4 separate regions of the Homo sapiens genome follow, and all the other regions are reported to be linked to region 1. Evidence: microRNA targets listed by miRTarBase, many of them from high-throughput screens and not tested one by one. Region 1 holds a microRNA gene; each other region holds the end of a gene's coding sequence.
Evidence for each region. The annotated mature microRNA hsa-miR-548ar-5p reads AAAAGUAAUUGCAGUUUUUGC and lies in region 1 at 1,988-2,008, opposite strand. An mRNA with a match to its seed (bases 2 to 7 or 8) in the 3' UTR can be bound and repressed. Matches are read on the target gene's strand: a 7mer-m8 pairs with bases 2 to 8, a 7mer-A1 pairs with bases 2 to 7 and ends in A, and an 8mer does both.

Region 2: the mRNA of PAFAH1B2 is a reported target of hsa-miR-548ar-5p. Seed matches in the 3' UTR shown: 7mer-A1 at 2,970-2,976 and 8mer at 3,509-3,516.
Region 3: the mRNA of GPR27 is a reported target of hsa-miR-548ar-5p. Seed matches in the 3' UTR shown: 7mer-m8 at 5,905-5,911.
Region 4: the mRNA of CCDC80 is a reported target of hsa-miR-548ar-5p. Seed matches in the 3' UTR shown: 7mer-A1 at 5,115-5,121, 7mer-m8 at 3,460-3,466, 7mer-m8 at 3,227-3,233 and 7mer-m8 at 1,038-1,044.

Annotation. Positions count from the first base shown.
Region 1 is chr13:114,239,513-114,246,512 of GRCh38, reverse strand. It overlaps MIR548AR (microRNA 548ar), which reads right to left and starts at 2,008; the gene lies at 1,952-2,008. CDC16 (cell division cycle 16) reads right to left here. Exons shown (of 18, transcript NM_001078645.3): 6 at 4,233-4,392; 7 at 3,165-3,256; 8 at 2,524-2,657; 9 at 1,544-1,623; 10 at 464-513.
Region 2 is chr11:117,167,147-117,174,146 of GRCh38, forward strand. PAFAH1B2 (platelet activating factor acetylhydrolase 1b catalytic subunit 2) reads left to right here. Exons shown (of 6, transcript NM_002572.4): 6 at 275-3,899. The coding sequence ends at 553. Among named protein-coding and RNA genes, the nearest start is that of SIDT2, 8.1 kb to the right of the region's middle.
Region 3 is chr3:71,754,512-71,761,758 of GRCh38, reverse strand. It overlaps GPR27 (G protein-coupled receptor 27), which reads right to left. Exons shown (of 1, transcript NM_018971.3): 1 at 5,263-7,247. The coding sequence ends at 6,582. It also overlaps a transcript of EIF4E3 not described here. Among named protein-coding and RNA genes, the nearest start is that of GPR27, 4.3 kb to the right of the region's middle.
Region 4 is chr3:112,599,333-112,606,579 of GRCh38, forward strand. It overlaps CCDC80 (coiled-coil domain containing 80), which reads right to left. Exons shown (of 8, transcript NM_199511.3): 8 at 1-6,431. The coding sequence ends at 6,085. Among named protein-coding and RNA genes, the nearest start is that of CCDC80, 38 kb to the right of the region's middle. RefSeq lists an enhancer at 4,556-4,725.

The DNA.
Region 1 (7,000 bases):
TCCTTAAAGACGCAGTCCCTGATTCCATTTTCCATTCCTAGTTCTCCATTCCGATCCATGACAGTTTGGAATCAGTACACAATTCAACAGGTTGTCTTACATGTGCAATGTGAGAAAGCTGCCAAACAATTATCCACATTTCTTAGGAAAGGGAGGCGTGACTGTCATGGTCAGTATTTTATATTGCTATACGCTAAGTATTTTAAAATAAGCATGTATAACTTCTATAATCAGAAAAAAGGGTTTAAAAACCTTTTTGCTTTGGTATAATTAAAAAATACCTTCATGGGTTGAAAAGTTAATGCTGCTTTTGTAAGTACAATAAACACTAGGAGATTCTGTTGCAACACTTTAATAAAACATCATTTGCTTGAACTTAAGCTATTGTCTAAATACGAGTTAAGCATTTTCTTAAAGTACAGGTAAAAAAAAAAAAACTAAGACTAAAAGTTATATTACTTACAGGATTACTAGGATATAAATCCACCAGTTTATGAGAAAGATAGAAAAGTTCTGTTCAGGAAAAAGCAGAAAAAGAACAATTGTTCGTATCACATGTAATTTAAGACATGATTTCATTACAACTCTTCACAATCATATAATTCTGCTCTTACAGCAATGATTTCATACTTGTCTTTCCTTCTAGATAAAAAATTAACTCTCTAACTGGAGAGTTAGATGAAGGACACACTGTGGGCAAGGTGGGAACAGACACCCCCTAAGACAGCACTTCCCGAATACTGCAGAGGATACAGCAAAGCACCTCACCTCTCTTAGAAGCTCATGCCTGTCACACCAAGGGCCCATTATGGACCATCATAATCACCCACAACCAATTTGGCTGAACAAACTTTCAAGTTTATCAGATCAATGATACTATTTAATCTTGAGAAATGTGTAAATCCTGGCATTTCAAGATGATGTTTCCTGCATGCAGACTTGGATTCAGTAGACCAGAGCAGCTGGAGATGCTGCATTTCCAACCAGCTTCCACAAATGCGATGTTGCTGGTCCACGAACCACACTCTGAGCAGCAGGGATTCGGTGAGGGTTTTCCTTCCTGACAGAGCTCACCATTCAGTTTAGAAAAATTTAAGGACAAATGCATCCCCAAACACAACTAAATGTCAAATGTTAAAAATACGGAAAACATGAGCAAACAATCTGCTCCTTTCCAATTTCTAAGTAGTTATCAACTCTTACCATATCAGATTTCCAGTGGAATTTACAAAAAAAAAAAAGGGGGGGGGAGGCAGAACTGACACCCAACAATTTAAAGCTAACAAACCTTGAAACATAAATGATATTTGAGAAAAGGTAGTAGGAAGCAGTGATAAAGAACTAATTGTTCTGATGGGAAAACAAAATTGGCCATTTGCTACTTTCCTAAACATTTCCTCCCCAGTTGTTACTTTTATAGTAGGGTTCCATTATGTTGTTACCTGCAATCTCAACTATCCAGAATTTCAGAGACAAAATTTCAAGTTACAGAAAAGATTTGTTTTATGTCTAAGAATTACTTTAATTTAAAAAAAAGTCTTACCATTGGCTTTATTCAGCTCTACAAGCGTCCCTATATGTACAGGTAAACAACTTGCATGGAAAGGATCTTTCTCCATTACTCTGAAAGTTAAAGCGACACATTACTACCCCCAAACCAGCAGGTGACAGCACTCACGACGATCGGCTATGTGTAGACAGTCATTATGGTATCACATATGATGCTGTGGGTTGTAACACTTCACTTTCTTCACTCCATTATCTTCAGGTTGATTCAGTTAAGGCCATAATTAAGTTACAAATGAAAGAAAAAATTCTGGTTTATTTGAAAGGAATAAAAATAAACATTATCACATACATTTACTTTAAGTCAACAGAATTGTAATACATAAAATAAGTAGGCCGCTTATTTAAAAGAATCAAAACCAACAGGAAATCCTATTAGGTTGGTGCAAAAATAACTGCAGTTTTACCACTACGTTCAACAGCAAAAACTGCAATTACTTTTGCACCAAACTAATAAATAGGTTATGTGTATTTGCCAATTAAAATTTTTGTAATTTCAAGGATTTTAAACCGAACCAAGATCTACAAAAAATAGCATATGTCATTTAGCTAAAGTTTAAATTAGGTACACTGGAAAACTGATACATGTGGGAGATGGCTTAGCTACTGCGTGCAGCATATTAAACACCTAGTATCTACAGTGTGAGTCTCATAATTGAGAATAAATTTTACAAAACAATGTGCCAAAATGGAATTTTCAAACTTGCAAATTATCAAGATCAGTAAGAGCAACATGTATATCCCTCCCAAGTTAATGTAATAAATCTACAAATATGCACAAATTCATGTCTGTAAATTGCTCTTTTAAGACAGCACCCTGTTCAGTGCTCTACAATTGGTAAAGATAACTTAAATTATCATCTAGTTCAAGATTATTCAGAGAGCACGTCCGTGAATCACCTAGGTAAGATGGAGTGAACTCCATGTTCCTACAGAAAAATGGATGGATATACTTACACAGAAGTAAGCTTGTAGCACATTTTAAAATCACAGTTATAATAATGTCTCTCAGCTAAAGACACTACCACATCCAGATTCTCTTGCAAGCCATCTACAGATTCAGGGATGACCGTTTCACTAGGCTTATTATACTGAAACACATAGAAATGTAAACATAAACTCAATGAGCAAAAACAAAATAAAATGTGGATTCAATTTGTGTTTGGCCCAAGTGGTTAAAACATTTACAAGAACAAATGTGAGAGCCTCTGAAAACTTATAACTTTAGGTTTTATAAGTACTCCTCTCAGTAAGTTTAATTCCCTTCTCAATTTTAGAACAGAATTCCACAGCGGGACGTATTTCTCAAAGTAAACATTCAGGAAGCATAACAAAAAAATCTTCATTTCCATGCAACACCATTCCATTTACATTTACTTGGTAATTCAATCTTTTAGTATAAGGAGTCTTTCAGAGGAAAAAGGTATTTTTGAAAGCTTTTTTTTTTTGGAATCTTATGTATCTTAAACGCTCTATTCTTAAAAATGTGCTAAATTTAAAAAGTTTTAATTTTGAAAACTTAATATAAGACTAGATGCCAAATTTTATGGAATAAGATATTTACATAAAGCAAGTGCTAACTCTTTGGTTTTACTTACTTTTTTCAATTTGTTCTCAAATAGAAAACGCAGCAATTCCTGTTCTTCATTACACAGCTTGCTAAGGGGTAGTGATTCAAGAAGTTCTTTTTCTTAAAAATGGTGAGAAAAAAAAGAATATCCTCATAATATTTATAGAGGGGAAAAAGCCAACAACTAAAAATATGATTCTACAGTTCTTGGTCTAAGTAAATCAAACTCAAAAGAGAACATAAGATCAAAATGTGCAACAGAAGCTGACACAGTGGCTCCAGGCCTGAAGACGGGAATCATCTGGTGGGTGGAGGCTACTCTTTCAGGGCTGAGGCAGGTCCCCAGGTGGCTCTTGTCACCTAAGAACCACCAGCCTCCGCACTCCTGACTGCGTGGATCTTGCTCTGCTGGGAACAGGGGAGCCTGTGTACTGCAGGTGCTAAGCAGGACCTCTGGCCACTAACCACTAGATACCAGCAGCAACCTCTCAACCTCCCTCCCTGCCCCTAAGCTGTGACAAACAACATCTCCAGACATTGCCAACTGTTCCCGGGGCAGGGGGCGGCAAAATCACTCTGGTTGGTTGAGAACCACTGCACTAGGCTAAAATATGTTAGAATCCCATTAATCCAACCACTCTATTTTCTGTTTCCCTTGTTGACGCACCTCACACCACTGCCAACATACTTGGACTGATTCTCAGTGCCTGTGGTACATTAGGATCACCTGGGAGCTTTAAAGCATCTGCTCTGGAGTTGGGAACTGGACATGGATGTTTCTCTGTCTTCCCAAGGATGTAAAGAGCAACACGGTTGAGAATCACTGCATGAGATACTGAAATCCTGGTTTATACTATCTCAATCACTTCTCAAAAAGATGGCCTCTTCCTATCACAATCCCTAGATTCGGACAGCACAAGGCACCGTACAATACTGCATTCTGCAACGTGCTTTACATTTGAAGACATTAAGAAAGTGAGTAGGTCTATTTAAACCTGTATGTGGCCTGTTGTTGACTTAGAAGATTTCAGAGGCAAAAAATCCAAACAATATTAATTTTGCTAAACATAAAACAAAAAAGCCTGAGTTTCCAAACCTTCTTGTGCTGTCAGCATGTGATGTGATGTTAAAAGATCGAACGCTTCAAAACAGTAGACATCAAGCTTCAAAGCTTCTTTGTAGCTGTAGGTAGCCAGGGTTCGGTTATCTAGAGCATCATAGATTTTCCCGCGTAGAAGACAGATAGAACTCTTTATCTGTTGGAAAAATGATGAGTCACATATTAAGTCAGTACTTTTAAACTTAACTTTTTTTTTTTCTCCTTAGAGGCAGAGTCTCACTCTGTCTCCCAGGCTGGAGTTCAGTGGTGCGATCATAGCTCACTGCAGCCTTGAACTCCTATGATCTCAAATGACCCTCCTGCCTCAGCCTCCTGAGTAGCTAGGATTACAGGTGCACAATACCACAAACAGTTAATTTTTTAAATTTTTTGTACAGACAATCTTGCTATGTTGCCTAGGCTGCTCTCAAACTCCTGGCCTCAAGTGATCCTCCCACTTTGGCCTCCCGAAGTGCTGAGATTACAGGCATGAGCAACCATGCCTGGCCCTTAAACTTAACTTTTGATAGAGAATTGTGTATTTGAATGCTGAGAAGTTTTTATTGCATTTAAAAGGATTTAGTCAATCACAACTGTCAAGGCATAAATAAAAACACACAAAAAATGCACAGCAAAGCTTCTTCAATTCACCTTCCCTGGGCTTCAACTGCTCTGTTCCAACACATCTTTATAACAAAAGTACATGTCACGGCTACTAGGTTCATTACCTGTTTTGTCCAAAACAGTGCAATGATTTAGAGATGGCAGAGTGTGTGTGCATGTGTATAAAACTCCAAGATTGACAGTGTGATAGGCAGACACCCCTCAAAAGGATCTTAATGAGCAGAAACTGGCAGCAATGCAGCAGAGTGGTCACAGCAGTCAGCACAATGGCCTGCTGAGGCAGCACAGACCTGAGTTCAAACCCCAGCTCTGCCAATTACTTGTAACCTCGGACAAGTGATTGAACCTCTCTTGGCCTCCATTTCCTATCCTCATCTGTAAAAAGATAAAAACACTATCTAACTTATAGAACTCTTTACTATCTAACTTATAGAAGTCTGTGAGGGCTAGAGATGCTACCATCTCTGTGGTGCTAGCACATAGTAAGGCGTTCAACAGCCATCTCACGACTACCATAAACACGAAGATGTGGAAATCTGATGCACATTCTAGACTCTGGACCTCGAACACATAACTGAATTTAAAGATGATCCAGCAACAGGCAGCTAGTATCATTAAGGATATGAAGAAGATTCATAAAGTAAAATTTTAGAAAAAATAATGAATTATGAGAGTCTTCGAACTAAGCAATATCCTAGGAGTTGTTTTTTAAAAATGTAATTTCACAAAATAAATAATAATGCGTTGCAAATAAATCACACATTTCATAGCAAATAAGTTAATGGATAAGAGGTCCCAAAATAATGACTGTACCACACACTTTCATAAATGCATTTCTTAACAGAAGAATCTGCTTCCCAACACATACATTAATGAGTGGCCAGAAAAAAAAACAAAAACAAAAACCTAGAATGTGTAATATTCTTTTATGCTTAAAAATAACTATCTAAGGTGAAAAGTCAAGTAATAAACTTCTACCAAAAATATAAATAAATGGGCCAGGTGCAGTGGCTCATGACTGTAATCCCAACACTTTGGGAAACTAAGGCAGGAGGATCACTTGAGCCCAGGAGTTTGAGACCATCCTGGGCAACACAGTGAGACCCTGTCTCTACAAAACATTTTTTAAAAAATTTAGCCAACTGTGCCGGGCACAGTGGCTCACACCTGTAATCCCAGCACTTTGGGAGGCCGAGGTGGGCAAACCACGAGGTCAGGAGATCGAGACCATCCTGGCTAACATGGTGAAACCCCGTCTCTACTAAAATAGCAAAAAATTAGCCGGGCATGGTGGCGGGCGCCTGTAGTCCCAGCTACTCGGGAGGCTGAGGTGGGAGAATCACTTGAGCTTGGGAGGTTGAGGCTGCAGTGAGCTGTGATTGTGCCACTGCACTCCAGCCTGGACAACAAAGCAAAGACCCTGTCTTAATTTAAAAAAAAAAGATGTGGGAAGAAAGAGAAATTGGTAGGTCAGGTAAGGCTTACAGGGATTCTTTCTGAATAATAAAAATATTCTAAAATTGACCATGGTGAGGTTTGCAAAGCTCTGTGAATACACTAAAAGGAATCAAACCATACAGTTTAAATGGGGGAACTGCATGGCATATAAATTATACCTCAATAAGTTTTTATTTTTTTTTTTAAATCCAGATTAGTGATCTGTAAATGTCACTTAATAAGTTACTATATGATGTCTGCCAGCAAGGAATGTGCAATTTCATGGAGATATGAAGTATACAAACTGAAATATACACAATTACATAGCAATGTACTTTGAAGCAAACAGAACACAAAACCATTTCCTGGAAAGAAACAATGTACGCTAATCAAAGTTTCTTGGTGTAGGTCCAAAACACTGCTGAAACACAGAAAGGAGAAGAAAAATTATTCCACTTTTAGGGAGTAGCTTAAGGCATCAAATATGAGAAGGAAGTTTCAAGCCAGCCTATTTTGGATGCAGGCATCTGCGGATACAATTACAGCTTGCAACTAAGGGCTCAGAAATGTCTCAGAATCTTTTTTGGTTTTGGTGGGCAAATTAAATAAATTGGCAACCACAATTGTTTTAATATAGTAATAAGTAAAAGAAGATAATGTGTTTCTGCCACGTAATGAGGGCAATTCTCGCCGCCGTTACTGAG
Region 2 (7,000 bases), not on the chromosome of region 1:
TCTAGGAAGAGATCTGGCTAAAGTATTTAGAGTAGTGGGCCAGAGGACAGGTCCTTGAAGAATACCAACAGTTAAGGGACAGGAGGAAGGGAACCCATGAAAAAACTAAGAAGAAATGGTTAGCTTTCATTCAAAACAGTATTTTCCAATGTTTCACAACTCAAAGGTGTAGAAAGTGCCAAATGGAGATGTTCCAGGAATATCTGAAGTTATAAATAATAAGTAGAGAAAAATAAGTGAATCTTCTAATTTAATGTTTTCCACTGTGCCCCAGGGTTTGTTACCTCGAGGTGAGAAACCCAATCCTTTGAGGCAAAAGAACGCCAAGGTGAACCAACTCCTCAAGGTTTCGCTGCCGAAGCTTGCCAACGTGCAGCTCCTGGATACCGACGGGGGTTTTGTGCACTCGGACGGTGCCATCTCCTGCCACGACATGTTTGATTTTCTGCATCTGACAGGAGGGGGCTATGCAAAGATCTGCAAACCCCTGCATGAACTGATCATGCAGTTGTTGGAGGAAACACCTGAGGAGAAACAAACCACCATTGCCTGACTGGCTCTTATCAGTGTTAATAGCATCTCAGCTTCCTCAGATCAGTTCTATCACTGGCACTACAGAATCCTTCTCTTTCTTAAGGCACTTTGCATTGTAGAATGTTCCTGGATGTTCATATCTAGTGTTTGAAGGGGAGGAGGGATTTAAACTGGTCCTGTACATAGAAGGTTTGTTTGACAGAGGAGAAAAATTAGCCAAGGAAGATTGTTGTTTAAATTCATTTGAAACCAGAAGGGGACTTTTTAGTTGTATGTGTAACACATTCATTGAATTATTATCACTGTTTTCTTGGGACAACATCAAGCCTAAATACTGAACAATATGAAGATTCTTTTCTTGGCCTTTCTGTGGATTATGTCATATATAATAATTATCAGAATCATTCTACTTGGCTTTAAAACATGTTTTCTCCAATTTTTTTAAGGTTCATAATTTAGCCTTTTGTTTTTATGTTGCTTAGATTCTTATGTATACTGAATATTTTATTAACATGTAGCATCAGGTTGAACATGCTTGTCATTGATATATGGAAGATGCTATAGTTAGAAGTGAATTTGTTCTGCTTTCTTAATCTTTTCCATGCTTAGCAGTGAAAAACAGGTTTTGCCCCAGTAGAGGGATTCTTTGGAGGGTATTATTTTTTATGCTGCTGAATATCATGTCTATAATAGACCCGTGCATGCAGCCTTTCCTCCTTATTCCCCTTCATGCCCCCCTTTCCCCTTCATTCCCCCCGCCACCCCGTTTTTTTTTTTTTTTTTTTTTTTTTGGTTCTTGTTGACATTACAAGCTTTTAACACATTTTTGACCTAGGAGCCCTGTTGCTGGAAGTATAGTCTCCAGCCAGTTACTCTCATGATAGTACTGCTATAAAACTCATTCTTGTGTGGTGTTCTGTGCTATAGATTCTGTGTATTGCTGTTCATATTCGGAGTTCTGGTTTTGTTTTTCCCTTAAAACCTGTTAACAGTTTTTTTTGGGGGTGGGGGGATTCAGAACTCTTGTTTCCCATTCCATAGCACCTGACATTATTTCAAGTTTTATAATATCTTAAGGTGTATATTTTATTTTTTTTATTGGCTTAGTTGTTTTTTGTTTTGTTTTGTTTGAGATGGAGTTTCACTGTTGCCCAGGCTGGGGTGCAATGGTGTGATCTTGGCTCACTGCAGCCTCCACCTCCCGAGTTCAAATGATTCTCCTGCCTCAGCTTCCTGAGTAGCTGGGATTACAGGTGCATGCCACCATGCCCGGCTAATTTTTATATTTTTATTAGAGACGGGATTTCGCCATGTTAACCAGGCTGGTCTCGAACTCCTGACCTCAGGTGATCTGCCCGCCTTGGCCTCCCAAAGTGCTGGGATTACAGGCATGAGCCACCGTGCCTGGCCTTATTGGCTTAGTTTTTAAATTATCCTCCAAAAATTTTGGGCCTTTTTCTGTGGGGAAACAAGTGAAGCTGCTCTTCAGCATAGACACTACCTTTATCCCATCATTTTAGTAAAAACTAGGTTTGTTTCACTTCTGAGGTGTCTTATTAATGTACTTCATCTGAGAATTTGTTGATCTTAATGTTCGAGCTATATAAGAACTGCCATTAAAAAAAATGGGATAATAGATGATTTTATCAGTATACCTGTGGAATATGTACAAACTGGATCTATAGATATTTTGAACTGGACCAGGTGGGTATTGAAGTAACCCATCAAAATATGCTCTGCAGTGATTCCGCTTAATGTTTAAATTCAGTAACGTACTTGAAAGGCAAATTTCAGTGCTTTTGTATGTTGGAGGAGGGCTTACTGATGCGTGCTAAGACCGATTTCTGATTGAGGGATGAACCTTGGGCTCATTTTTTTCTTGTGAAGTCTCTTTCTAGAAAATTTTTTGGTTTTGTTCTTTTTAAAAAATACATACTTTTTTGAATGTATCATGTCTTCATTAACAACAGAAAATCCACATGGTGTTTACTAAACTTGTTTACGACATTAAAAATTTCCTTTTTATTTTTAGTAGCCCAGGTTGAGTTTTTCACAAGAGATTTTTTTCTTAGCTGAGGTATAGTTGTATAGCAAGAAGAATTAAGCCAGATTTTTGTGTGTGGAAAGACAGTTTTCTATCCACGTCTTTTTCTGTTTGTCAGAAGGTGGGAGTATGGTCCAAATAAATCCATTAGGTTACTCCTGCAGCATGCGCTTTTAGCTTCTCTCTTGACTGAGGATCAAATATCCCTTTGTGAGCTGGCCCTCAGCTCCTTTGCTCATGTGTACAAACCTCAGATGTTACTACATTTTATATCTACCAGAGCTATTCAAGCAATAGTATTTGAACCACTAGCCTTTTAAATAAAATTCTGCCCCATTACTGATGTGCAGATATTGAGTTCACTTTCATTTTTTGCCAGATTTCTTTGCACTACTTTAGGTAAAAATAGTTAATCTATTTTTCTTTGACATCCTAGTTTGCGTCAGTGACAGAACTTACTGCTTAGTCTTTGTACTTTTTAAAAAATCTATAAATTTAATGCACTGTCCAAGTGAAATGTCCTAGTTGTCATTGTGATTAAGGGGCCAACTTTCCAGGCAGCTAGCAGAGATACTATTCTCTTCCTCTCCCAGCAAATTTGTATTCCTTCGCCCACGCATTCCTGCTATACTAGATGGCAGCCAGTGATGGAACTATAAAGATGTCTGTGGTCATATGTTGAATGTGGCAGCTTGAAGATGTACTGCCACGGGTGATCTAGGGCAGGCTGTCTTCCAGTCCATGTGTTCTCGGTCGCCGTAGACAGCGCTCTGGCTACCACCGTGAGGCTACTTGAACTGTCAGGGGCATCTGCCTAAACCAGAATCTTTTGTCAGAAACCTTAACCCAACAAAACAAATCTTGAGTAGCTCATGCCCGGCTCTTAGGAATTTTGTCTGTTTAAAAAAAAAAAAAAAAAAAAAGTCCAACTTACTTTATTTTATTTTTTTAACCTAGTCACTGTTTACAATTGTATGCTAAAGCCTGAAATATTGTCTGTGCTGTGGTGTATGAGCATTGCCAACTTTATATTTATTGCAGTGAAGAAGAAACTAAAAATATATGGAAATGAGGAGCATGTCCAAGCTCCTAAATCCGTGTGGGTGCATGTGGGAGAAGTGAGTTAGGGCCTCTTGAAAGGAGGCTTTTTGGAGAGGGGTCCCCCAGGTTTCTTGGTGTTCCTGCTTGGGGATCACTGCTGCTAGCTGACTGGACCTCCCCATTGGAAGTTTGTGATTTTGCTTTGGCAAAGTTTCATTGACTAGTAGAACTCATTCTGTTTTAGTGTATATTTCAATATAAATGTAAACATTTTGCTCAATTTGCTGGTGTCTTTCTGTCTCCTTTATCATAGTTTGGATTCTAATGAAAAAAAGGGATGGTTTTTCCCTGCCTTATCATAAGGAAATTGGATACTTAGATGATCCTGCTTCTTTACTGTGGAACTGAATGCACCAGGCTGACTCATCACTTACCTTCTCGGGCATGTAGATTGGTAGGGTGGGATGAGTAGGTATAAGGACCCCTCAGAAAGCACAACTGCCATCCTTGAAGTCTACTCTTTTCCATTAGATTGGAATAGTTTTGCAGATAGGTTAGTCTGGATTATAGGCTGTGGACCACCTCATCTGAACTGGGTGAATGTCATCAGTCAGTATAATACAGTGTTATTGGCCGGGCTCACGCCTGTAATCCCAGCTACTCAGGAGGCTGAGGTGGGAGAATTGCTTGAACCCAGGAGGCGGAGGTTACCGTGAGACGAGATTGCGCCATTGCACTCCAGCCTGGGCAACAGAGCGAGACTCTTGTCTCGGAAAAAAAAAAAAATACAGTGTTACTACAGCATAGAGGACATGAACCTTGAGCACGGACTCATTTATCACCCTTACGTCCCCAGGGTAAAGCAGCCGCCTCCAAATACTCTATCTCAGAGATAGTGAGACTAGAACAAGGGTCGGTTAACTGGTCGATCGGGACCTATCCTGATGACACACCAGCAACTACCAGGCCAGCAATATTACAGTGAGTTGGTATGCCGGTATGATGTTCCTTGGCAGCTAAAAGTTTCTGTGATCTTTGTATCATTTGCTTTATCACTGTTCACCTCAGTGGTATACTGTTGGATTAAAATGATTTGCTGCTTTAGGAGGAAAAATTTGGAGGTAAATTGAGACATTTTGTTTTTCTAGCTGCCCTTCCCCCCTCCCCAGTATCTCATCACACCAAGTTCCTCTCCACCCACACTCCTGGAGGCCTTTGTCAGCTGCTTGCAGGCCACACAGCAGCAGTGAAAGCAGCCTGGATCTTGAAGCTTTGCTTTACTGTATGTGGATTACCCCATGTGAACCTCTTAAATGGCCCAGAACAAGTGGAAGTGGTAGTAATGTGGAAGAAAGAAAAAGCTCCCTCACCAGCATCTGTACTTGAGGGGAAAACTGGACAAACCAACATGAGAATCTGTCCCCTAATTTATTTTCCAGCCATGGCAGAGATGAAATCTTAACCCAATGACATGTTTTTACATAGCTATAAAGCAAAGATCTTCAATGTTTTGCTAAACATATAATATTTGTGGCCTGATATTATGCTATGCCTTTTGCCTACTTGCTGGTTCATTCTAGCTTTATATATATATATATATATATATATATATATATATATATATATATATATATATATATTTTTTTTTTTTTTTTTTTTTTTTTACATTCTGGTCAAGCTTTGGCAGTATGCTTATAGTGGATTCATAACACATCAGTATACTGCAGCTTGCTTGTCAGCCACTGAGTTAAAAGATCAAGTCCAAGCCATTAAATGTAACATCTAACAGTCTCCATGACCTGGCCTCTTTAATTTGTAACCTTCCACCCTTTACTTTGAACTTTTCTGCCAAGAGCACTGAGCTTCCTTTATGTTTTTGCCCATAGTTGGGAGCCCCCTATCTGGAATATGCTCTTACCCCTTTGCTGGTCTAGCTCCTACTCTATTTTTATTTTTTGGAAACAGTCTCGCTTTGTTGCCCAGGCTGGAGTGCAGTGGTGCAATCTTGGTTTACTGCAATCTCTGCCTCCTGGATTCATGTAGTTCATGTGCCTCAGCCTACTGAGTAGCTGGAATTACAGGCGTGTACCACCACGCCTGGCTAGTTTTTGTGTTTTTAGTAGAGACAGGGTTCGCCATGTTTACCAGGCTGGTCTCGAATTCCTGGCCTCAGGCAATCGGCCCGCCTTAGCCTCCCAAAGTTCTGGGATAACAGGCATGAGCCACCGCGGACCCAGCCGCCTGTCTTCTGATTTCTAAGCCAAAGACCCAAGCTTTCTTGAAATAAGAGAGCTGGCTCATTTTTATCGGTGATCTTTGGAGGCAGAGATTTGAGACGGTCAAGTATTTATCTGCTTGTTTTCTGCAACCTGATGACCAGCCTTGTTTCCTGGAAAGCTCTGATGTTGGTTTCATCACGTGGCCAGAGGGAACCAGATGCAGGGCCTGAGTATATCACAGATATTTCCCAGTGTGAATGGTGAAAGCCCAGTTTTAGGAAATGGAAAGTGACTGACCTATCTCTAGGAGAAAGTACTGCCCACTTGGTCAGAGCTTATCTCGTTTGTCTCTCTTCCTGTTCTTTAGACAGTAGGATGGTGAATGCAGGGAAGCCTAGCTCCACTGTGAGTACTTAGGACAGTAGAGACCAAGTCCAGACAAGGCTCCCAAAAGGCTCAGAAAGCTCAAGTGGTTTGCCTAAAGCACACAATGCAGGGATTTCACTGTAGAACTTTTTTTTTCTTTTTTCTTTTTCTTTGAATGGATGAGAGGTTTTTATGTTGCCCAGGTTGGCCTCAAACACGTAGCCTCGCCTCCTTATGTGCCAGGGCAACAGGCCTGAGCCACCGCAGCTCCCAGTGACTGTAGAACTTTTTGACATCAAAGTCCGTCCTTTTTCCGTAATACCATGAAGCCATGTGACAGGTTTGAGACCTTCCCCAGTATGGCAGATTAAATCCTGTGTCTTTAACTGATTCCCAATCTAACATGCATCCAGTCTTTGCAGTCCTTGCAGGAAGAGAGATAACCAGACACAAGGGCAGCCCTGGGAAAGAACAGAACTTGTATGATGGAAAGAAGTGCTGAACTCTTGCTGGAGCTGCTTATGTCTGGGACAATTCTTTCTAAGCACCAAATGAAAAAACAGCCCTTTTTATAATCACAGTGAAAACAGAAAGCTTCAGGTTCATTTCCTTCAGAGGGGTTGGTTTTGAATCTTTTTTTTCTGGGTTAAAGTTATACCATTACATGATACTAAAATCTGTTTTGATTCTGTCTCCCACCCATAGGCATGGCTACTCCCTACCTCCCAGGTTCCTAAATAATTTGATTGGATTCAGCTAATCCATTTACTGTGATTCTTACAAAATCCTGCTCGAG
Region 3 (7,247 bases), not on the chromosome of region 1:
CTTTCAATATCTATTGGTTAGATGGATTTATTCAGGTGGTTTTCCAGATTCCTGTAATTAGATTTATGATATCAAAAAAGTTTGGTCCAGGTATGATGACTCACACCTGTAATCCTAGCACTTTGGGAGATCAAAGCAGGAGGATCACTTGAGGCCAGAAGTTAGCCCAGTCTGGGAAACAGATACACCATCTCTCCAGAAAAATTTTTTTAATTATCCAGGAGTGGTAGCACATGCCTGTGGGCCCAGCTACTCAGGAGGCTGAAGCAGGAGGATCACTTGAGTCCAGGAATTGGAGGCTGCATTGAGCTATGATGGTGCCACTGCACTCTAGCCTCAGAGACAGAGTGAGACCTCGTCTCAAATAAACAAACAAACAAACAAACAAACGAATAAACATGAGTGGATCAAAAAGGTATCATAGACCAGGCATGGTGGCTCATGCCTGTAATTCCAGCACTTTGGGAAGCTGAGGCAGGCAGATCATTTGAGGCCAGGAATTTAAGACAAGCCTGTCTATACTAAAAATACAAAAATTAGCCGGGAGTGGTGGCACACACCTGTAGTCCCAGCAACTTGGGAGGCTGAGGTGGGAGCATCAATTAAGCTCAGTGGGTGGAGCTTGCAGCGAGCCAAGATCATGCCGCTGTACTCTAGCCCGGGCGGCAGAGCAAGACTCTGTCCAAAAAAACAAACAAACAAAAAAAAAGGCCCAGTGCGGTGGCTCACACCTGTAATCCCAGCACTTTGGGAGGCTGTGGCGGGATCACCTGAGGTCAGGAGTTGGAGACCAGCCTGGCCAACATGGTGAAACCGCGTCTCTACTAAAAATACAAAAATTAGCTGGGCATAATGACAGGTGCCTGTAATCCCAGCTACTCGGGAGGCTGAGGCAGGAGAATCGCTTGAACCTGGGAGGCGACGGTTGCAGTGAGCCAAAATCGCACCATTGCATTCCAGCCTGAGCGACAAGAGTGAGACTCCATCTCAAAAAAAAAAAAAAAAAAAAAAGTATCATAAAGTGCAATTAAACAGAACTGACCTAGTAATAGGTATCTTTTTAATCTTCTGGACTTATTTCAGTTTAAGAAATCATGCCAAATATATCTCATTTTTCTAGAACCAGGTTAATTTAACAGCAGCAGGCAGAACAATCAGAGAGTTGAAAAATATTAATAAGCCAAATTTTTAAAAAAATTGTGGATGCAGCTCTAGAATATCAGGCACACCTAGCAAAGGGGTCAAGGAGATGCAGTAGTTTCAAGTATTGTTGCAGTTTCTTGTCACTCCAACTAACAAGCTTCCTGACTACTAATGGCTGAAACAAAAGTAGTTTTAATTTCAAAACCAGAAGTCTAGAGATAGGAGGTTGCTAATCTAATTAAGCAACTCAAGAATGTTAAAATGGGTGCCTGCACTTTTTATCTTTCTGTTCTGCTATCTTCACTGTCTTGACAGTGTCTCCCCTCATGGTTGAAGGATGGCTGTTGTGGCTCCAAGCATCACATCCTATCACCCCAAAAGGAGTAAAGAGGGAAGGAAAAAGAGTTCTCTTTATGGGCTGAGTTAGGCCTCAAAAGTCTCGTCCCAGCTGGGGGAGAAGCATAAAGAACCCCTTGGCGTCAGATTAAGTTTGCTTTTACTTATATTTACTCCTGAAGCAGCTAATAGGACTCGGATGTGGATGGGTGGAGGTGGTTTCCCATTGCCTCCCTTGCCCCTCAGGGAGAGAGGGTCCTGAAGTTCAGTGGTCTTGGCAGCCCACACAGGGTGCACATCTGAAGAACAGTATCTTGGGTCAGCTGCATTTTATAACCCCAGCCACCTCGGTGCACACAGAAAACCTAAAATACCAGTAAGACAATAAGTCTGCCACTTAGCCAGCTGTGTGCTCGGATCTAATGACTTAGTTTGGAGCCTTGAAAATCTTGTAGGGCCTGCCCCAGGACCATCACCCTCTTTCTGTAGAGGCTAGGAATTCACTCTTTATGTTTAGTTATCTCTTTATGTCTGAAAGTTTAAGAGGCAGTTGAGGGGGGACAAGGAGCAAGGGCTTTGGCCATGAGGAACACTGTACGCAAAGGCATGGTGGTGTGACGTGGCGTGGTCTGTTCAGGCACTGCTGGCAACTAGGAGTGCCTGAAGCATGTCACACGGCCTGAGGAGAGAGTGGGAGGAAGTGAGACTGGAGAGGGAGCAGCAGCTGATGGGATGCACCAGACGCAGGAGTGCAGACTTCAAGGAGGTAAACCATGCACTCTGGGAGCCCAGAGGAGGCATGACTGAGCCAAGAAGGGTTTCCAGAAGCCTTGGACCTGGATCCAAGATCCAATGTTCAGCCAGAACTTGGAGGTACAGTGGTATAGATTAGTTATGCCTGTGCCATTCCAGTTGTTAAATATTGTGAATTTACACCCCTGCTCTAGAGGAGTTGGTGAGGAATTGTCAGGCAGAAAGGTGGGAATGGGCTTTCCGGGAAGAGTGGAGAGCTGGTATAAGAGTAATCCAAGAAGGGAGAGATGAGAATACAAGGGAAGGATGAGGCCAGGGTGGTAGAGGGCCTGACTGTGAAAGGTCTGTGGCAGACAAAGAGGTTTCTCCTCCATCCTGTAGGCCTTGGGAAAACAGGGTGGACTCTATCTCATCAACCCAGTGATCCACCTGCAAAACAATAACCCTGAGTCAGCCCTAGGACTTGGCACCCTGTCACCTGTTAGGGAGCAGGGCATTTGAGAATGTAGAGGGCTGATGGTGAGAACAAAGACTTCGGAGAAATAATTTTGCCGTTTTATTTCTTTTTAAAAAAGAAAGAGAAAAAAGGGAGGGAGGGAAGGAAGGAAGAAAGAAGGAAGGAAGGGAAAAGAGAAAAGGAAGAGTAGAAACCAATATGGCATTTGGTAAGGCTGAGTAGTGGACACAGAGATTATCACTGTTGTTACTGATTTGTTACATGCTTCCCCACTTTGCTTAAAATATTTCATTTAAAAAATGAATGTGTCACACCTGTAATCTCAGCACTTTGGGAGGCCAAGGCTGGTAAACCACTTGAGGCCAACAGTTAGAGACCAGCCTGGCCGACATAGCGAAACCCTGTCTCTGCTAAAAATACAAAAATTAGTTGGGCCTGGTGGCAGGCGCCTGTAATCCCAGCTACTTGGGAGGCTGAGCTGTAATCCCAGCTACTTGAACCCAAAGGTGGAGGTTGCAGTGAGCTGAGATCACGCCACTGCAATCCAAGCTGGGCAACAGAGCGAGACTCTGTCTCAAAAGAAAAAAAAAGAATATGTCAGGTGTACTGTACATTTAAACAGACATATAGACATATGGTCCTTCTACAAAACTATTTGACAAGATATCAAAAGTCCTAAAAATGCTTCTTTTGACCCAGCAATTCCATGCTAGAACATACAGACAAAGATCTATGTACGGGAAGCCTACATTGCTTCAAGTATAGTGACAACTGCGTGGGAGGGTGGGGAAGTTGTGCTAAATTAACTTCCCAAATAAATAAAATGAGCAATTTTAATGAAATCTTCCCTAAATACATGGTGCCTGTGCTGGTACAATAAGTAGAGTACTGTGGACACAACTAACCTTTTTTTTTTTTTTATAATTTTTGATTAATGTAATTAACTATCAAAGTACATGTTAATAGATTCACCAATCCTAAAAGCTGTTGGGGTGGCCCTTTGCACCTCCCCACTTTCTGCTACATAGCTTGTTTCTCTGGCTCTTTTGGTTCTCGTTTCCTTTAGTTGGCTGTTATTTCTTGCTACTCTCACCTGCACACTCACTAGAAATCTTGCCTTCCCCCATCTAATCAGAACTTTAAAACATAAAAATAAAAAACCCAGGTAGCCAAGTTTGAACGCATCATGTCTGAAGTAAATCATGTCTGAACGAAGTCCTGGAGGTCTGTCTCCAACCACCTGAGGAACCTGTTGAAATGCTTTTCCCCAGGACCCAACTCAACATGTCCTCATAAGACTCTGGATCACACAGACACTTAATTTGTATGAATGTTAGAATTTGAGAACCTCTGGCTTATGAATTCTCATATGACAAAATATCCCTTGAATTCAAGGCTATGTCAGGCCAACACGTCACCTCTGGTGCAGCTGAGCTGCTGCCCAAAGCTGGAGTGGCTCAGGAGTCAGCCATGATGGGCTGGTTCCTGTGCCATGCCAGGTGGGAAAATCACAGAGACTTGGTGATCTCTGTTTTGGGGGCTTTTTTGAGACAGGGTCTCGAGAGCTCTGTCATCCAGGCTACAGTGCCATGGCACAGTCATGGCTCACTGCAGCCTTGACCTCATGGGCTTAAGCCATCCTCTCACCTCAGCCTCCCCAGTAGCTGTGACCACAGGTGCACATTACCACACCCAGCTAATTTTTTGATTTTTTGTAGAGACATGGTCTCGCTATGTTGCTTAGGCTGGCCTCAAACTCCTGGTCTCAAGCAATTCTCCTGCCTCGGCCTCCCAAAGTTCTGGGGTTACAGGCATGAGCCATCGTAGACTGGTTCGACCTCTATTTGGAACTGAGATCACTTGGGCAGGTGGAGGGTTAGATGAGGAGAGAGGTACTTCTGGGCTCCTCTATCTTGGGGTTGGCTGAGGTTTCCGATCAGTGGCCCTTGGATGATTGAGGCCAACCTGGATTCATGATGTGGGGAGAAATAGGGTAACTGTCTCATATTTTCCAAGTGTGAGACTGTCTTCACAGACTGATTAACTTCCACAACAAAATAAAATCATGCAGCCTATTTACCAGAGATCAATTAAATTGGCCACACTCTTTTTATAACTTATTCCCATTGGACTGAACATTTAATAGTTTATATTATACTCAGCTAAATTTCAATATAATCTACCACCCCCACTTTTACCTAGTACTTTTATCAAAATGATCGCTTGTACTTGAGTTTGATATGTTTACTTAAAAGCTTTTTTATGTCATTTAACGAATAGTCATTGAAATGTTGTCATCCAAATAAAAAAACAGTTTTAAAGCCGTATATATGTCTACTGCTTCTTCCCTTTAAAGAAAAGTTTCGCAGATTTTATCTTGCATTTTAAATTAAGCCTCCACTTTTCTTGGATATGCTGATGGTCAAACTATGAAACCTGTAACTGAAGAACACGTGCTAAAAGGATCATAGAGCATGTTATCCTTACATAACATACTTAGAGGCATGTAACATACTTCGACGCATGTATTATTACAGCCTCAAACACCACCACCACCACAACAAAACAACCACTCCAGAATGAAAATACTGGTATATTTGTATAATGCAAAGAGAAATACAGATATAAATCCTCAAAACGGAAGGTACATTAATAAAAATGTAGCATTATAAGCCAAAAATATTATATAGTACTTGCAGAATTTAGTCTTTCAGTTTAACATTATAATGTCTAACAAAGAAATATTATTTAAATTATAGTTCTCATTATTAATTTAAAACAACCATCAGTAGAACAGCACAGCTTAACCTAGCAAACATTTTAAGGAAATGCTTTGTTTCCTAGAAGGAGGATATCATTATATTCCATTCATTTATACCATAAACAACAGAAGAACAATTTTCAAAGTGGAAATTAGTTTCATAAGACAGAATAAAACTGGGCTTCTCAAAGCACAAGCCATTTCCATAAAATTAATTTTTTATTGGCAAAAAATACTTAAAACAATTTTGATGTAGTACTCTGCTTCTCAGAGCCCTCCCAATCCTCGAACCACAATCTATACACACGAACACATGCAATACTGTATTTTTCTCCACATCATTACTAACCAAAACACTTTACTCTTTTAAAACTTACAACTTGACAGAAATGTTTCCATTCAAGATTGCTATAATACAGAGAGCAGTTGTCACTGACGTGGTTTTTAGCAGCAGAAAGTAAACCGGGAACCAAATCTTACTTGTTACTTACTGCTTTAAAAAAATGACTGCCTTGCTACTGATCTCCATCTCTGCTCTTTAAGTTCAATATCAACACTGAGACTTTCAAAGAACCAGCGCAGCACAAGGACCCTGCAGCCGGCAATTCAGAGGGCATTTCGGACAACTTCCCCCCACCCCCCACTTTCTCCTGCTTCCAACAGAAGATCCTCAAGAAATCTAACTTGTGAAGAAGTCCCCCTAGGTTCCTCTACTTCACTGCAAAATGTAATGCCACTTGAGGTTGTCAAAAATAGCTTCTGTAGAAAACTGGCCATGGTCTTTAGGAAACGTTGCATGAAGAAAATTAGTACAGCCTTTATAGAAAAAGAAAAAAAGGAACCACACATGGAATAAAAGACGTCAGTACCGCTACAAAAAGACTGCAGGGCCTATTGTCAGGAAGAAAGTCGAGTTAGGAGGACGAATGTGCGGAGCTGGAGTGGGCTGAGCATCCTACTCCTCACCCACCCCACCCCCAAAGGAGTCAGTACAATCCAAGTGTCTGTCCACTTCGAGTCATTTTGAAGGCAGCTTAGAAAATTAAACAGGGGCCAGAAGGAAAAGATACAACGTCACCGTCCGAGCCAAAGGGAAAGGCTGGGTTGGGGGTCTATGTGGCGGGGCCTCCCTCATAAACCAATGCCTTTCAGGTCGCAGGGATGGGTCGCCTGGGTGGTCCGGGGGCTCTGGCAGCAGGGGAACTGGGCCCTGAAGCAGTCCCTCAGCTCCCTGTTGAAGAGGAAGCACACGACGGGGTTGATGCCGGCCTGCGCGAAGGTCAGCCACACGGAGGCCGTCAGGTAGGCCTGGGGGACGGCGCCGGGCCGCACCAGGACCCGCAGGTAGCTGGCCACGACGTAGGGCCCCCAGAGGAGCAGGAAGAGCAGCGTGACGGCGTAGAACATCTTGCACAGCCTCTTCTCCGTCTTGAATTCTTCCAGCACGAGGAGGCGGCGCGCGCCGCGGCCCGGCCCTGCGGGCCGGATGCCCACAAGCGCGGGCGGCGTGGGCCCGCGGCCGAAGCCCGCCGTCCAGTTGGCGGCCGCCTGGCCGGTGGCGCCCGGGCCGTGGAAGGTCCAGTCGTGGCTGACGGCGGGCACCAGGCGCGCGGGCCGCATCTTGCGGCGGTCGTGGATGAAGAAGAGCAGGCGGAGGTAGACGAGGTGCGTGGCGCCCACCACCACGGCCAGCAGCAGCAGGAAGCCCAGCGCGCCGGGGGCGCCGTCGGGCCGCTGCTCCAGGGCGCACGGCGCGTCCTCGTCGTCGCCACCGCCGTCCAGCACTGGCGGGAAGGC
Region 4 (7,247 bases), not on the chromosome of region 1:
AAGAGGAAGTCTGGCATCGGGAGCTTTACACAACTCAGAGAGAACTGAGGAAAGTAGTTAGCATGTTAACTGTGCCTCACCTTGACCTGAAGTGAAGAGCACTCACCAAGCCACAACCTGCTATCTGCACACCCCACACCATGAGGTAAAGGACAGCCAAGGAAGAGAAAGGAAAGAAAAGCAATCCGGCAGGGAGATCAGGGAGCGAAACGAACAGAGAAACGAACAGAGGTTTTTTCCAAGGGCCTTCTATTTTTCTACAATCTCCACACATTCAGTACTGAGACACATTAAGAAGGGCCCACTGAGGCCATCATTCACCCTACTCTCGGGCTGCTTCCATCCTCCAGGCTTCTAGAAGTTGAGAAAGTATGAGCTTCATTGTTAATTATATTACAGAAAATGGGACCAGCTGGGTTGCACCCACTCCCCTGTGTCTGGACCTCCTGCCTATGTAGCAGAAAAGGATCTTTCTGCTGAATTAATATTCACCTCAGAGCCCTGGGAGATGTCTGATGAAAAGTAGTTTTTGAAGAGTCTTGTGACAACCAGCAATTTCGGCAAAGCTATGTCCTCAAGAGTCTTCCAGATTTCCCCAACTCTACAGAATGCTTTTCTTTTTAAATACCATAATCCCATAATCTTTCTCAAAAATTATAAAACTGTATTTTATTTTTCTCATTTATTTGGGAGTTTGGTAAGAAACGTTTGGGAAGAAATGCTTTTATGGAGAAACTACTCAGATTTGAAACTACCTAGTTTATACTACCAGAAGACAGAGATTCAGGTTAGCTAGTTTGCTAATCCTCACAGTTTCAGAGATATGCCTTGTATTTTTCCAGATTATAGGCTTTGAGGACATTCACCAATAGCATCCTCCTCTGAATGTATTTTGGTCCTTTTGCTAAGCTATGTCTTATTTTATAGTCCTCCAAATGATGATCTATGACTTCTCTGCCTGCTCATTAGAGGAAGAAAAGCTCAGATGCATTGCTAACTATTATTTCAATGCCAGTGGAACTGGAGAAATGCTTGAAAAAGTAATCTCAGGTTGTAAAAAAGAACTATCTTTTTTTGGTTGCAGGAGCTAGAACCCTATTATTCTGAGAGTAAATTTTCTATTATTCCTATCTAATTCATTTTCTTGGGAGATGAAACTCCCTCTTTTTTTTGGTGGGGAGACAGGGTCTCACTTTGTCACCCAGGATGATGATGATGGAGTGCTGTGGCACGATCACGGCACACTGAAGCCTCGACCTCCTAGGCTCAAGCGATTCTCTCACTTCAGCCTCCTGAATAGCTGGGACCACAGACACACACCACCTTACCCAGCTAATTTTTTGTATTTTTTTGTAGAGACAGGGTTTTGCCGTGTTGCCCAGGCTGGTCTCGAAGTCCTGGGCTCAAGCGACCCGCTCACCTTGGCCTCCCAAAGTGCTGGGATTACAGGTGTGAGCCCCTCACTGCTCCTGGCTCCCTCATTATTATATTTCCTGAAGTTGACATGATTTGGGTCCTTTACTTAGAAATTGTCATCACACAATTTCAGAAAGGTAAAGAAATCCATTTTTATTGGCAACTTTGGGCTATGCTTCATCCTGGCAAAAATTTAAAAGCAGTACACTTCGACGTGGCTCACTTTCCTGCACACCTCAGGCAGCTTGTACAGACTATCCAAGAAAAAATGAGGAGGAAAGTGCTCCATCAAGGAAGAGGGATGAGATGGGAGCATAATTCACACACTAAGAACTGAGTTCTAAAGTCACTTGAGCTTTCTGGAGCTCAGTTACCTGTAAAACAAGGAAGAATGAATGGTCTTTATGGAAAATGAATGGCAGAATAAGTGATTTGTCAAGTTCATTGAACTATAAATTCCATTTTTACTGTCATTTATTTATAACAAAGTTCAGATATAAAGAAAAATCTGAACATACAGTAGGCACAGATAAACCTATAGCAAATATTCACATGTGGTTTGAATGCATTTATTAATCTCTGTACTTATTAGAATTAATAATAATACTAAAATGATTTGGAGAATTAATGATTAATAACAGTGGAAAATAGCCTTCCCATTATTGTTAGAGGATGGTGCCATCATGATGCTAAATGCCTATCTGAGGGGAAGCTCATAAATATTACTTGACAATATTACTTGATAAATATTTGTTGAAAAAAGAAATGTAGTAAAGAAGCAAGGATGGCTGGGCATGGTGGAGCATGGCTGTGGTCCCAGCTAACTTGGGATGCTGAGGTGGGAGGATTGTTTGAGGGAAGCTGAGTTTGCAGTGAGCCAAGATTGCACTACTGCACTGCAGCCTGGGTGACAGAGTGAGACCCTCTCCAAAAAAAGAAAAAAAAAAAGAGAAAAAAAAGAAGCAGCAGCAACGAAAGGAGGGAGGAAGGGAGAAAGTTTACTTTGATATGCCATATGATTGAAACAAATGCTCTTTTTTCAAAGACAAGGATTATACTCCTTTGCATTCCAGCTACTTTGGTCCATTGTAACTTGGTAACCTTTGCCTTGAAAACAAAAAGAATCCCTGGATATAATCTCCTTCCTTGTAATTTTTTTTATAAGATGCCAGTATGGTAATAGGTCCATTAGCAAGTAAGTACAGGCACATCTTATTTTATTATACTTCTCAGATACTGCATTTTTTACAAATTGAAGGTTTGTGGCAACCCTGCATCAAGGAAGTCTGTTGACATCATTTTTGCAATAGTATGTACTCACTTTATGTCTCTGTGTCACATTTTGGTAATTCTTGCCATATTTCACACTGTTTCATTATTATCTCTGTTATTAAAATCTGTAGTCAACGATCTTTGATGTTGCTATTATAATTACTGGGGGCACCATGAACCACACTTATATAACACAGTAAACTTAATAAATGTGTGTATGTTCTGATTGCTCCAACAACCAACCTTTCTCCAATCTTTCTCCTTCTTCTCAGGCCTCCTTAGTCCCTGAGACACAATATTGAAAGTAGATCAATTAATAACCCTAAAATAGCCTCCAGGTATTTCAAGTGAGAGGAAGTTGCAATCTTTCACTTTAAATCAAAAGCTAGAAATGAATAAGCTTAGTGAGGAAGGTGTGTCAAAAGCTGAGACAGGCTGAAAGCTAAGCCTCTTATGCCAAACAACCAAGTTGTAAATGCAAAGGAAAAGTTCTTGAAGGAAATTAAAAGTGCTACTTTGTGAATGCATGAATGATAAAAAAGTAAAACAGCCTTACTGCTGATATGGAGAAACTTTGAGTCATCTGAATAGAAGATCAAGCCAGCCACAAAATTCCCTTAAGCCAAAGCCTAGTTCAGAGCAAGGCCCTAACTCTCTTCAATTCTATGAAAGCTAAAGGGAGGTGAGGAAGCTTCAGAAAAAAAGTTTGAAGGTAGCAGAGTCTGGTTCATGAGTTTGAAGAAAAGAAGCCTTGTGCATCCATAAAAGTGCAAAGTAAAGCAGCAAATGTTGATGTAGAAGCTGCAGTAAGTTATCCAGAAGATCTAGTTAAGATAATTAATGAAAGTGGCTACACTAAACAATAGATTTTCAAAAGAGATGAAACAGCCTTATATTGGAAGAAGATGCCATCTCAGACTTACGTATCTAGAGAGGAGTAGTCAATGCCTCACTTCAAAGCTTCAACCAACAGGCTTACTCCTTGTTAGAAGTTAACGCAGCTGGTGATTTTAAGTTGAAATCAATGCTCATTTACCATTTCCCCAAATCCTACGACTTTTCAGAATTATGCTAAATCTAATCTGCCTGTGCTCTATAAATGGAGCAACAAAGCCTGAATGACAGCATGTCTATGGACAGCATGGTTTACTGGACATTTTAAGCTCACTTTTTGAGTCTTACTGCTCAGAAAAAAAAAGAATCTTTTAAAAATATTGCTGTTCGGGCCGGGCGCAGTGGCTCATGCCTGTAATCCCAGCACTTTGGGAGGCCGAGGCCAAAGTCAGTAGTTCGAGACCACCCTGACTAACATGGTGAAACCCCATCTCTACTAAAAATACAAAAATAAGCTGGGTGTAGTGGTGGGCGCCTGTAAATCCAGCTACTCAGGGGTCTGAGGCAGGAGAATCACTTGAACCCCGGAGGCAGAGGTTGCAGTGAGCCAAGATCGCACCACTGCACTCCAGCCTGGGTGACAGAGCGAGACTCCATCTCGAAAAAAATATATATATATATAATATATATTATATATTTTATATATGTATATAAAATATATATATAAATGATCAGTTCCAGACCACTATAATATATATATATATAGCTGTTCACTGACAATATACCCAGTCACCCAAGAACTTGGATAGAGATATACAAGGAGATTAATATTTTCGTGCCTGCTAACACAATACCTATTGTGCAGCACAGGAATCAAGGAGTCATTTGCACTTTTCGTAAGACTATAACTGTCACAGATTGTGATCCCGCTAATGGATCTGGGCAAAGCAAATTAAAAACCTGGAAAGGATTCACCATTCTAGATGCTGTTAAGAACATCGTGATTCATGGGAGAAGGTCAAAATAGGAAGATCAATGAGTTCGGAAACTGATTCCATCCCTCATGGATGATTTTAAGAGGCCCAAGACTTCATTGGAGGAAGCTCTGCTATAGACATAGTGGAAATAGCAAGAGAACTGGAATTAGAAGTGGAGCCTGAAGATGTGACTGAATTGCTGCAATCTCATTACAAAAGTTTAATAGATGAAGACTTGCTTCTTATGAATGAACGAAGAAAGTGATTTCTTGAGATGGAATCTACTCGCGTAAGTTGCTATGTACATTATTGAAATGACAACAAAGGATTTACAACATTACATAAATTTCATTAATAAAGCAGCAACAGGGTTTGAGAGGATTGGCTCCAATTTCAAAAGAAGTTGTACTACTGGTAAAATGCTATCATACAGCATCACATGCTGCAGAGAAATCTTTCATGAAGAAAAAGTCAATCGAAGTGGCAAACTTCATTGCTGTCTTATTTTAAGAAATTGCCACCATCACCCCCAACCTTCAGTAACCACCACCCTGATCATTCAGCAGCCATCAACATCAATGCAAAAAGATTATGATCATTAGCAATTTTTAGCAATAAAGTATTTTTAAAATAAAACATGTACATTTTTTGGACATAAAGCTATTATACACTTAATAGACTACTAAAGAGTGTAAACATAACTTTTATATGCACTGAGAAACCAAAAATTTTGTGTGACTCACTTTATTGCGATATCCACTTTATTATGGTGGTCTGGAACTGATCCTGTAATATCTCCATGGTATGCCTGTGCTGTACAGGGGGTAAAGTGTGAGGGGTCAAGAATTTTCATGCCAGAAATTCCATAGCAGCCTACTAGAACTCTGGAAGTATCGCCTTTGGCTGCAGTGCCAGATTCTGGTGAGGATTTCCTGGACCCCGATTTATATCTGAAAAAACACTAAAAATAACAGAAGCAGGGCAGGAAGTGGCTATGATAACAAAGCTGGGCTTGGTACTTTCTCTGGCTTTTGTGGCCAATATTACTGGACTCCCGTGGTATCAAGTTTCATAAAAGAAACTCATACAAAGCAGAGATATCTTAATTATTTTCAGACTGGCATTTCAAAAAGTGTCAATTTAAGTAAGTATTATAAGTTATTTGTTCTTTGTTTTATCTTTTCAGATGTTTCTTGAAAACATTGTGGTGTGATCTTTAACAGAGTTTTCACTTACCAATTAATACAAAAAATAAGAAAAAGCTTTAAATACATATTTTATAAAATTTTATATGCCAAATAAGGTCCTTCATATAAGAAAAGGAAAATAATATCAATTTTCAGTACTATTATTTAGCACTAGAGCCCCTCCAGTTAGAAAAACAATTCTTTTAAATGTCTTTATGATTTGAGGTTTCAATAATAACTCATGAATAGGTGAAAGTTTGCTATTTATTTAGTCTTAGAAAAACACTGAAAGAAAAAGGCAGGAAATGTAGTACGCAGTGTGGAAGAATGGAGCTGGCCACATGTAGTTTTAGCAGCTGCAGAGGAAACTGGCTGAGTCTAAGGTTACATATTTCTGCTCAGTAAGGGTATCCATGGTGATAACTCTCATGATGACGGTAGTCATCCTGGTAACCATCCTGGTATCCTTGGTGGTAACTATGGTAACCATAGCCTGCATACTCATCTTCTGGGCAGCGCATCCCCAGTGACTGCTGAATCGCCATTTCCTGTCTCCGAAGTTGCATCGAATCAATTAAATCGTACACAATCACCATGGACCACATTGGGGAAGGATACCAGGATTTGACATTTCCGTCTTTTCCGACTAGAAGCATGGAGAAGTACTCCGGGCTCACTTGAAAATAGTTACGAATGTCTTTCACCAAATGGGCTGGTACGTCTTCTCGCTCAACAACAGAGCTCCCTAGAATAACATTGGAATAGTTATTGTTAGTAGATTAAACAGTCAGAGCCCATGAAAACATTAAAGTGTGAGGAAATTACTGTGAGAATAGGGAGGACCCATGAGCCTCTTCTCTTTAGTTCAAAATCTAATTAAAGAAGTTTGCTGGGGCTTTTTCTACTAGAAATTAAATGTCCCTGCTTTCTGCAACACGATTAGGGTCAAACTTTGGGGCACTCGATGTGTCTTTTGTAGGAATGTTACAAAGTATAAAACCAATTCCTTAATTTAATCCTGGCAAGACTAATTTCTTTAAAATTTGTCACTAACAAGGATTATATAGTTTATCTTTCTAAGTTTATTTCCAATTAGCTTAGTTACTTCTCTGTAACTACAGCTTACCTTTTGACACATCTTAATGATAAAAAGCTTATTTCATTGTTAAAAGTGAAAATATCAATTCTGTTAAGATCTAGAGGAATATTTAAACTATTGTGAATAGTGAAAAGAATAGAGGGGAAGGAGAAAAGGAGCTGACACTTTCAAGTCTGCTGTGTCCGGCATTCTGCCAAGTATTTTACACACATTATTTAAAGAGCTTGGTCTTGGAAGAAAGGACTGGATTTGCTTTCTGAAAACTTCAGTCAAGAGTCTTTTTTTGTTTTGTTTTGTTTTGTTTTGTTTTGTTTTGTTTTGTTTTTGAGATGGAGTCTTGCTCTGTCACCCAGGCTGGAGTGCAGTGGTGTGATCTCGGCTCACCGCAATCTCCACCTCCGAGGTTCAAGCGATTGTCCTACCTCAGCCTCCCAGGTAGCTGGGACTACAGGCGCATGCCAC